Linked DNA regions of Homo sapiens. The protein of the gene in region 2 interacts with the protein of the main gene of each other region in a pairwise test. Each region holds a gene or a part of one and is shown on either strand. Other genes may lie near its edges.

Region 1 (3,754 bases), on a different chromosome or scaffold from region 2:
GAATTACAAGAAATGAGTGAGAAGATGCGGTCACTGCAAGAAAGAAGGAATGTAGGGGCTAATGGCATAGGCTATCAGAGCAACAAAGAGCAAGCACCTAGTGATCTTTTAGAGTTTCTTCATTCCCAAATTGACAAAGCTGAAGTTAGCATAGGGGCCAAACTACCCAGTGAGTATGGGGTCATTCCCTTTGAAAGTTTTACCTTAATGAAAGTATTTCAATTGGAAATGGGTCTCACTCGCCATCCTGAAGAAAAGCCAGTTAGAAAAGACAAACGAGATGAATTGGTGGAAGTTATTGAAGCGGGCTTGGAGGTCATTAATAATCCTGATGAAGATGATGAACAAGAAGATGAGGAGGGTCCCCTTGGAGAGAAACTGATATTTAATGAAAATGACTTCGTAGAAGGTAATGTGAAAAATATGTTGGTCAATATTATGTTAGTAAGACAAATGCTAGTATTGTATGCTGGTATTGTATTGTAGTATTGTACTGTAGACAAATGCTAGTATTGTATTGTAGACAAATGTTAGTAATATAAGTCAGTCATTATCCACAGTATTAAAACACTGAAAGTTTTTGCACTTCATTGCACCAAGAATTTTAAGTGGCCTTCTGGAAAAAGGTATGAGATCATAATAAAAATGGAGAATAAGGACTAGGGAAATAGAATAAAACAGCTCTTGTTGCATGTGTATGATTTATATTCCTCACTTACCTGATCTTGGTGTTCTTTTTTATGTTTTTAAAAAATGTGTAAACTAAAACTCAAAACTTGAAAACCATTTGATAAAGGAAAGAAAAAATTAGTAGACTCTTAGCTATTTTTCGTATTGGAGGAAGGAGAAGCTCATGTCTGAACAAGGGGTTATACATAGTTTAAAAAGCACATTTGGCATTTGGAAAAGTAAGGAAATACCTGTTTTCCTAATACATATTTCAGAAAGGGTATGGAATTTTTATGTATCAAGATGGGATGTGACTCAGAGGTTGAAGAACACTGCTATAAAATTTAAGATATTGATTGATATTAACAGTAATAATTCTAGATCCCTACCCATCTCCTTTACACTCACTGCTAGACATTTAATTGCTGACTTAAACCATTTTAAAAATAAATGTTTCTTGAAAGTTCTCTTTGCTTGATTCTATAAACTGTGTTATCACAGTGGTCCCCAGCCTTTTTGGCACCAGGGACTGGTTTCATGGGTGACAATTTTTCCATGGGATGGTGAGGATGGTTTTGGGATGAAACTGTTCCACCTCAGATCATCTGGCATTAGTTAGATTCTCATAAAGAGCGTGCAGTGTAGATTCCTTGCATGTGCAGTTCACAACAGAGTTTGCTCTACTTTGAGAATCCAGTGCAGCCACTGATCCGACAGGAGGCGGAGCTCAGGCGGTAATGCTTGCCAGGCTCCCATCACTCACCTCTTGCTGTGCCGCCTAGTTCCCAACAAACAGGCCACGGACCAGTAGCGGTCTGTGGCCTGGGGGTTAGGGACCCCTCGTATAGCACATGTAGACTTTTTGACTCCAAATCATCATGGCCATCACTTGCTGCACTGTAGCATTATTATAATACACTGAGGCCCTTGGAGGCCATCAGGGAGGGCATTATGCTTTGCAGTGGCATTGCAGCTGCCTTTCCTTGTGGCCTCCTCTTTTTTCTGCTGTCACTTCCTGCCATTTTTGATGGATTATTTTTCTCAAAACTCTTCTGATTTTTCTGCAAGCTCAGCTTTTTGTCTTCTCACTGTATGTTTGTAGCTTATGGCAGAATTGGAAGCTGCGGAGGAAATAAGATAACTAAGTAACATGTGTAAAATGTCCTCACATCAGCTCTACCTAAAAAGAAAGGGAGCTGTGCCAGTTTTATATTCTGCAGCTCCTGCTTTTGTCTTATAACTCTCCTTGGATTCTGATACTTCAGGATTTTTCTCTAAATGGAACATATTCTGTTCCTCACTTTTCCTCTACTGTGCCACTGTCTGCCCACTGCAGGGAGAATAATTACTAATAATTAGTAATGACAACTAATTCCTATCCCTCTTCTAAACTTTAGCTCAGATATCACTTCTTCTGAGAAGTCATCTGCAACCTCAGGTCTAAGACAGCAGTACTTCTGTGTGCTCTTGTCACCTGTACATTCATACTGCTTGTCACAGTATGTGGCATTGCCCATTTCCTGGTTTGTGCTTCCTACTAAAGTGTAAGCCTCAGGAGGGTTGGGACCAAGTCTATTTTATTCACCATTTTATACCCAGATATTTACTGAGTGACTCACACATCTGTAGGTCTAACCTTCTTCTCTCTCCTGAGCGCCATACTTAAAAATCAGATTGCCACTGGGCGCAGTGGCTCACTCCTGTAATCCCAGCACTTTGGGAGGCCGAGGTGGGCAGATTATGAGGTCAAGAGATCAAGACCATCCTGGCCAACATAGTGAAACCCCGTCTCTACTAAAAATACAAAAATTAGCTGGGCGTGGTGACACACGCCTGTAGTCCCAGCTACTTGGGAGGCTGAGGCAGAAGAATTGCTTGAACCCGGGAGATGGAGGTTGCAGTGAGCCAAGATTGCACCACTGCACTCCAGCCTGGTGACAGAGTGAGACTCCGTCTAAAAAAAAAAAAAAAAAAAAAAATCAGATTGCCTCGTAGATGCGCATGCTTTTCTCTCAAAGGCATCTCAAATCACTGTGTTTAAATCTGTACCAATTTTTCTTTGACTTCACTCTAGTCAGTGATTTTATATGTATGTATGTATACACACATATATATATACAGATATATATATATATCACATAGCACTATATTGTTATTATTTGTCTATTTTTCTGTCTCCTTCACTAGACTGGCCCTGTCCTCAAAATTGAGACCATGTGGCACTCTTTGTATCACATAACTGACACGAAGGCACTCGATTTCTTTTAGTTGACCTAAACCAATAGAAATTTTGGCTCTTGGGTCTAGATTTTAATATTGCTAGAAGTAATTTCTTTATTTATCATGATTACCATATTGATAGGCTCTAGTATTTTTAAAAAGTCGTATGTAAAAAGGAACAATTGTCATTTGTAGTATATTTTATAGATTGAATAAAATAACAGAACAGTGAACTTTTTTTTTAACCTTTTCTTTTAAGCGAGTAATTGTTACTGTGCAGTGGGGATAAGTATTTTCACAAATAGGTAAAAATCCTGCAGGTCTAGTTTAATACCCTTTATGTTTAAGTGAGTAAAATCTGTCTTCCCATTGAATTTGTAAACTTTGACATGGAGACGTCTTTGTTCCTAACTCTTTCCTTTAGGTTATTATCGCACTGAGAGAGATAAGGGCACACAGTATGAACTCTTTTTTAAGAAAGCAGACCTTACGGAATATAGACATGTGACCCTCTTCCGCCCTTTTGGACCTCTCATGAAAGTGAAGAGTGAGATGATTGACATCACTAGATCAATTATTAATATCATTGTGCCACTTGCTGAAAGAACTGAAGCATTTGTACAATTTATGCAGAACTTCAGGTAACTGTCAGGGCTTAATGATTAAGCTACATTCTCCTAAAAAAAATCACGTTTTACTCAGATTTCCTTAATTTATCTTCACCGATTATAATTACTTAGAATAATTTTACAGGCTTTAGGGGAACTTTATTTTTTTATATTCTCTCTTTTTTTAAAGCATGTGTAGTATATTGTGTTATAGACAATTTGAACTATGAAATAAATTAAGAGTGACACCTATTAGA
Region 2 (3,754 bases):
AGTGTGAAAGTTCAACAGGTATTCAGTAAGCAGATCTAGGAAAAACTCACTCTAATAACGTTCCAGGAATTTCCTAAGACCATAGTGGGAGACAGCTGCATCAGAGGCCTCCCAGTGCCATAGGACCATGGACATTGGTGAGCAACTGTGTGCTGGGAGGAAATGGCTGCTTATTGGCATGGAGTTATTGAATGCAGAACTTTTCAGCCAAGCACAGTGCTATTCTTCTGAAATCATAACATCATGAGGACATCCACTGCTTGTACTCAAATAGCATTCCTCACAGGAATGTCACACCTGTGACTCTCTCATACCTCCAAAATCTCACTGCTGTTCTGAAACGCAAGAGATTTTGCCAAGGAAATGCTGACATTCCTTCTGTCCACTCCTCTCCCCACACTGCACTGTGTGGCCCCAGAGAGGAAAGACAAGGGCTGTTACCATGGAGTTCTTGAATTTCATTATTTATCTCCCAACACAACTTTGGCCTCACCCTCTTCCCCAGCGTGAAGACGCACAACCCAAGTGGGACAGTCTGAATTTCCCCACCCTCAGGTGTCAGAGAATCAGAGGAAGTCATGCTGCTTATCTAGAATCTGCTAGAAATGGAGTTCACCCAAAGAATGACCATCACAGAATTTATGAACTACTCCTAGATCATGCAATTAATAAGTCCTCTAGCCCAGTACCACTCAAGGTAGGGTCTGGGCCCCAGTACCAGTCCATAAACAGTTTGCTGCCGGCTGGGTGTGGTGGCTCATGCCTATAATCCCAGCACTTTGGGAGGCCAAGGTGGGCGGATCACTTGAGATCAGGAGTTTAAGACCAGCCTGGCCAACATGGTGAATCCCCGTCTCTATAAAAAGTACAAAAATTAGCCAGGTATGGTGGTATGTGCCTGTGATCCCAGCTACTCGGGAGGCTGAGGTGGGAGGATCACCCAAGCCCAGGGAGGTCGAGGCTGCAATGAGCCACCGTGATGGTGAACTGCACTCCAGCTTGAGTGACAGAGTGAGATCCTGTCTCAAAAAAAAGGGCGGGGTGCGGGGATTTTGGGTAGTAATATCAATAGCAGACAAAATAGAATTTGAGGCAAAAAGTGTTAATAGGATCAAGATTTTTTTTTTTAAAGAACAATCCACCACAAACATAGCAATCATGAACAACCCAGAAAACAGCATGAAAATTAAAAGGAAAATTGAGATTTTAAATACTTCTAATAGAGGTGATAGAGCAGGCAGCAGGGAAGTTAGTAACCTTGTCTAATAGGTTATCTGTACTCAACAAGCCTAGAACACACACTCCTTTCAAGTACCTGAGGAATGTTTATAACAGTAAAGATGAACAGAGATCATATTATAAATAGTTGGAAGATTTATTTTTTATTTTGTTTTTTAGAAACAGGGTCTTGCCGGCCAGGCGTGGTGACTCATGCCTGTAATCTCAGCACTTTGCAAGGCCGAAGCGGGTGGATCACCTGAGGTCAGGAGTTTGAGACCAGCCTAGCCAACATGGCGAAACCTCGTCTCTACTAAAAATACAAAAATTAGCTGGGCGTAGTAGTGGGTGCCTATAATCCCAGCTACTTGGGAGGCTGAGGCAGGAGAATTGCTTGAACCGGGAGGGTAGAGGTTGCAGTGAACCATGGTCGCACCACTTCACTCCAGCCTGGACAAAAGAGCAAAACTCCATCTCCAAAAAAAAAAAAGAAAAGAAACTGAGTCTTATGGCTGGATGCAGTGGCTCACGCCTGTAATCCCAGCACTTTGGGAGGCCAAGGTAGGTGAATCACTTGAGCCCAGGAGTTTGAGACCAACCTGGCCAACATGGCGAAACTCCATCTCTACTAAAAATACAAAAGTTAGTTGGGCGTGGTGGTGTGCCCCTGTAATCCCAGCTACTCAGGAGGCTGAGGCAGGAGAATTGCTTGAACCCAGGAGGTGGAGGTTGCAATGAGCCACTGCACTCCAGACTGCATTCCAGCCTGGGCGACAGAACAAGACTCTGTCTCAAAAACAAAAACAAAAACAAAAAACTAGGTCTTTCTCTGTGGCCGACGCTGGAGTGCAGTGCCTTTTTGCAGGCACAATCATAGTGCACTGCAGCCCTGAACTCCTTGGCTCAAGTAATCCTCCTGCCTCAGCCTCCTGAGTAACTGGGACTATAGGTATGCCCTACCATGTGTGGCTATATTTGGTAGGTTTTAAATGAAAAGATTTTTGTTTTCTGTACATTTATTTAAATTTAAAAAGTATTTAAGCCATCTTTAAGAAACTTAATGTTGAGAATGTTCTAGAATAGTGAGTCATTAGATTTCAAAATATTGGTATTGAACCAGATGGTCTTGTGGCTTCAAAGAAGTCTCTGAAGTCACTCCAGGTGATATTAAAAGTACAGTGCTAGGACTGTCTGACCCAAAATATGTGGCTGGAACCAGAAAGGATATAAGCATGGTTTGAGAAGGAAAAAAAGCTTAACAAGGGGGAATTGAGGAAGCCATTTGCAAAACTTCACAGGAAAGTTAAATGAATGAATGAATAAAATGTGATTAATAAATATGGGGGCCAGGTACAGTGGCCTGCATCTGTAATCCCAGTGTTTTGGGAGGCCAAGGCAGGAGGTGCACTTGAGGCCAGGAGTTCAAGACCTGAGCAACACAGCAAGACCCCCGTCTCTATAAAAAATTTTATAAAATTAGCCGGGCATGGTGGTAGACACCTGTAGTCCCAGCTACTTGGGAAGATGAGGCAGAGGATTGCCTGAGCCCAGGAGTTTGAGGTTATAGTGAGCCATGACTGTGCCACTGCACTCCAGCCTGGGCAACAAAGTGAGACCCTGACTCTAAAAGTAAAATTAAATTAAATTAAAAATAAGTGGATAAATATGGGTTATGCTGTGAAGCATAGAGGGAGGGATGAAGAGGGACATTTTAAGCCACTTCTCTGGCCCCAGTTTCTAACATTATTTCTAAAATGCAGGATATCTGGTTATCCCAAACCAGTTATATTTTTATTTAAATTTGCTCAAAATTTTTATTTTTAAATCTTAACAATTTCTAAAATCACACTTTTTAATTTATTTTGTATTTTTTTGAGACAGGGTCTTACTTTGTCACCCAGGCTGGAGTGCAGGGGCACAAACATGGCTCACTGCAGCCTCGACCTCCCAGCCTCAAGTGATACTCCCGCCTCAGCCTCCCAAGTAGCTGGGACTACAGGCATGCACCACCACACCTGGCTAATTTTTTTATATTTTGTTTGTAGAGATGGGGTTTCACCATGTTGCCCTGTCTAGTCTTGAAACCTTGAGCTCAAGAGATCTGCCCACCTTGGCCTCTCAAAGTGCTGGGATTACAGGCGTGAGCCGTCCTGCCTGGCCTAGTCACACTTTTTTTTTTTTTTTTTTTTTTGGAGACAGAGTTTCACTCTTGTTGCCCAGGCTGGAGTGCAATGGCATGATCTGGACTCACCGCAACCTCCGCCTCCTGGGTTCAAGCGATTCTCCTGCCTCAGCCACCCAAGTAGCTGGGATTATAGGCATGCACCACTATGCCCGGCTAATTTTGTATTTTTAGTAGAGACAGGGCTTCTCCATGATGGTCAGGCTGGTCTCGAACTCCTGACCTCAGGTGATCTGCCCGCCTCGGCCTCCCAGTGTTGGGATTATAGGCATGAGCCACCGCGCCCAGCTAGTCACGCTTTTTAGTCAAGATTTTTAAAAATGTCTGCATGCTTTTCTGAGAGCCTTACCTCTC
Region 3 (3,754 bases), on a different chromosome or scaffold from region 2:
TGAATATTCTCAAGGACTTAAAAAGTGTGTATAGAGTACACCAGTGGCTTTTTTCCCCTCTTATTTGCCCACTGCTCTCATGTTTTTTTCATAGCTGTTTCAAAAATATTTCTTGATAATTATGGCATGCTCTTTTTTAGTCAATCAAGTAAGAAACTTTTGAAGAGACATATAGTTAACAGTTTGTGGGAAGGGAGTTCTGAAAGGAGGCATTTGGGGTGACTTTTTAAGTAGGTTTGCCTGACATTGCTCTACTTTGTGAAATGACCAACTTAAATTAATGTATACTTTTAGCCCCCGAACCTAGTATTCCTTATTACTTGTAATTCAAAGGAATTGTGCTGTTTTACTTTGCATGCTTTCTTTAATTACAAAATTGTCTACAGTATCTTATATATAGTTGTTATAATTTTTACATATTTTTTTCCATCTTGAAAATGATTTTGTTTTCATAGTAGTGTTTAGCATTCAGTATTTTACTGTAATAAAGTGTGATATGCTATATTTTTGGTTTCTTTTTTCTTCCCTGTTTTACTGGTTCAATAAACAGTCCAGTAGTAAGCAATACTTTGTAAAGATACTGAAATAGTTTTGTGCCTATGTGTTTTGTCTCTTCTTTCTTTAATGCTGCTGTAGTCATTTCCTGGAAGGATATTTTCCGTTAACAGCTTTGTCTTGGAAACAACTAACATGCAGTAGGTTTCCCCCTCCCCCCATCTTTTGGTAAGGACTATAATACTGAAATTTTGAAAATTATTACTACATTGAAAATCAGCTAAACTGCAATCTCAAAACATAAATTACACTTAATCATTGGTGCTTATGCTTTGGCTAATGCTAATTTAAATAGACTTCTGCATGTATACTTCAAAGTATTATAAATACATTTCTGCTTTATAAAACTGATCAAATGAGAAGTGATCATTGAGTAGTTAACCACTTCCTATCTGGTATTACAGTTAATTTATGTGCTCAACAACAACAAAATTGGCTCCCAGATAGCTACTTGAAGTAACCTATAGTCATAACTGCCAGGGAGAATATTGTCACAAGTTGAATCTGGAAAGGCATTGTAAGGCCAGTGTACTAAGATTTTGATGACTCTACAAATTATATTTTCTGAACTTGTGGATACACGTTTCACTATGATTAGGTGGTTTTTGCTAAATTGGGCAATAAAAGTTAAAGAACCATGATTTCCAAAGACATAAAACAGCCTCATGTTAAGAATAAGCCTTTTCCTCCTTTATGGAAGAGAGATTGAAAATTGTGCAGATGGTATAATGAAAATTCTCTGTAAAATCTAGGTAGTAAAGTGGTTAACGTATAATTTGATTTTTGTTGTGTAACAATTTGTGATTCAAAAACTTTGTATTTTGACAGATGATCTTCCAAAACCCAAGACTACTGAAGTAATTAGGAAAGGCTCAATTACTGAATACACAGCAGCAGAGGAAAAAGAAGATGGACGACGCTGGCGTATGTTCAGGATTGGAGAACAGGACCACAGGGTTGATATGAAGGCAATTGAACCCTATAAAAAAGTTATCAGCCATGGGGGTAAGAGTTACTGAGGATTTTTCAGATTGTTTAATGCAATATCAGAATTCTTTTTTTTTTGGAAGGATATCTGTTTATTAAGAGTAAATAAGCCCTGTACAGAACACAGGCGCTAGGTTGAGAGACTCGTCTTTTGTAGGACATTTCTTCCTGCTAACCAGTTCCTGGAGGGCTTGTTTTTTTTGTAACTTTACACAAGGGGCACTAATGGAAAATATAGCTTTCTCAAGACATCTGATGTCAGTTTCCCATTGTTTTGCTTCACAAACATCAACAAAGTAAACCTGAACATGCTTAGCAATTTCCCAATGTTCTTTGCTGACATTACTTTTGACATACTGTGTCAAAATTCTTAAGGTCTCCCCTCCTTTGGTAAAGTAGGCAAAACCTTACAAGGAAAACACTATAATACGTGGAAATATACTGAGTTAGATTTCCAGTCACCTGCTCTATGGCTCTGAGATGCACTATATCCATAATGGTTCCTAGGACTGTGTCCACCTGATGGTTTGGAGTACGGAAAACCAACCCTTATGGCTTAAGAGTCATCTCCCATGGAAGACGATGCTGGCCTTCTGAACGCTGGGGCTCATGGGCTTGTTGATGTGGCTTTCTGGTGTGCCAGGATCCCCTGGCAGCTCCTGTATACTTCAGTCAAGCAGTCCAGCCGGGGCTTGGCACTCTGGAAGACGGGTACTACTTGGGATATCCCATGTGGTTCCACTGGATCCTTCAATAAGATGCAGAGGTAGTAAATCACCTTCTGCATGTAAATAGCCTCATTGATGACAATATCCTTGACCTTGCCCATTTCTATGAAGGTAGTGCTTTCTTAGCCTGAAGCATAAGATGAAGTCATCTGAATGCCAAGGGAATCAATGATTAACAGTCTCCTGATCAATCTTCACAAAATGGAGATAACCAAGCAGACCTAAGAGGGTGATGAAGATGGCAGCAGAGAGGATCATGCTGTTCTCGCAGAGGGTGAAGAGTCCGTAGGCTGCCAGCCACACCGTGCAGGTGACAGCGGTGAGCGAACGCAGCGAGAGCCCAGGGCAGCTGAGGCAGAATTCCCGGCAGGAAGGGAAGTAGTAGCGGCGCTGCAGGGCCAGGCGGCCACCGCAGATATCCGAAAAGCTCCGCTCATCCTCCATGACACCCCAACTCTGCCGCCCGCACCGCACCGCGCGGCACTCCACTGCGCTCGCCTGCCCTAGCCGTTTCATGCAATATCAGAATTCTAAATACTTTTAGAAACTCTGCCTAGAGATATTATGTAATTTTGAAAGAATAATAAGCATTTCTCATTCATTTTAGAAACATGACAGGTTTAAAGTAAAAGAATAAAAGTACCATTTAAAAATGATTATATGCATACAGTAAGTTGAAAAAGTACAAAAGAATTTGTAGTGAAAACTGTCAGGTTGGGCACGGTGGCTCAGGTTTGTAATCCCAGCAATTTGGGAGGCTGAGGCAGGAGGATTACTTGAGCCCAGGAGTTCAGGACCAGCTTGGGCAACATAGACCTCGTCTCCACAAAAAAATAAAAAAAATAAAAAAATAAATAAAATTAGCCAGGAGTGGTGGCATATGCCTGTAGTCCCAGCTACTTAGGAGGCTGGGGTGGGAGGAGAGAGAGCTTGAGCTTGGGAAGATGAGGCTTCAGTGGCCGTGATCATCCCACTGCACTCTAGTTTTTTGTTTTGTTTTGGTTTTTGACCCTGTCTCAAAATTAAAAAATTTTTTAAACTGTCTCTAGGCTACCCAAAACTGGGACTGAACAGTCTCCCTAATTTATAAACAGTGAAATGCTCTGATCTTAAGTGTGCAGTTCAATGAGTTTTGACAAATGCCTATATAACCATATATACCCATATATATAAAACCCATACCCCTAAAAATGTAGAACATTTTCATTGTCCCAGAAGAATTATTTAGTACCCCTGTGCAATGAATACTCAGCTTCGGTAGCCACTGTCATATCTACCCCCTGATTAGTTTTGCCTCTTCTAGAATTTCATATATAGTAACTAAAATCATCCTATGCACTCTTTTGTTTACTTTTCAGCATGAAGTTTTTGAGATTCATCCATGTTGTTGCACGTATCCACAGTACATTCCTTCTTATTGCTGAGTAGTTTTCCATTGCTTGGATAAACCATAATTTGCTTATCCGTTTTTTTTTATGTGCATG

What was found.
Region 1: the proteins of SLC35E3 (region 2) and CSGALNACT2 interact in binary tests that used the Homo sapiens proteins (3 or more experiments, as listed by UniProt).
Region 3: the proteins of SLC35E3 (region 2) and BNIP2 interact in binary tests that used the Homo sapiens proteins (3 or more experiments, as listed by UniProt).

Annotation. Positions count from the first base shown.
Region 1 is NC_000010.11:43,155,402-43,159,155, forward strand, and holds part of CSGALNACT2 (chondroitin sulfate N-acetylgalactosaminyltransferase 2), read left to right. Parts: coding exon 1-409; intron 410-3,313; coding exon 3,314-3,530; intron 3,531-3,754. UniProt on the Homo sapiens protein: Transfers 1,4-N-acetylgalactosamine (GalNAc) from UDP-GalNAc to the non-reducing end of glucuronic acid (GlcUA). Required for addition of the first GalNAc to the core tetrasaccharide linker and for elongation of chondroitin chains.
Region 2 is NC_000012.12:68,777,095-68,780,848, forward strand, and holds part of SLC35E3 (solute carrier family 35 member E3), read left to right. Parts: 3' UTR 1-3,754. UniProt on the Homo sapiens protein: Putative transporter.
Region 3 is NC_000015.10:59,675,717-59,679,470, reverse strand, and holds part of BNIP2 (BCL2/adenovirus E1B 19 kDa protein-interacting protein 2), read left to right. Parts: intron 1-1,383; coding exon 1,384-1,560; intron 1,561-3,754.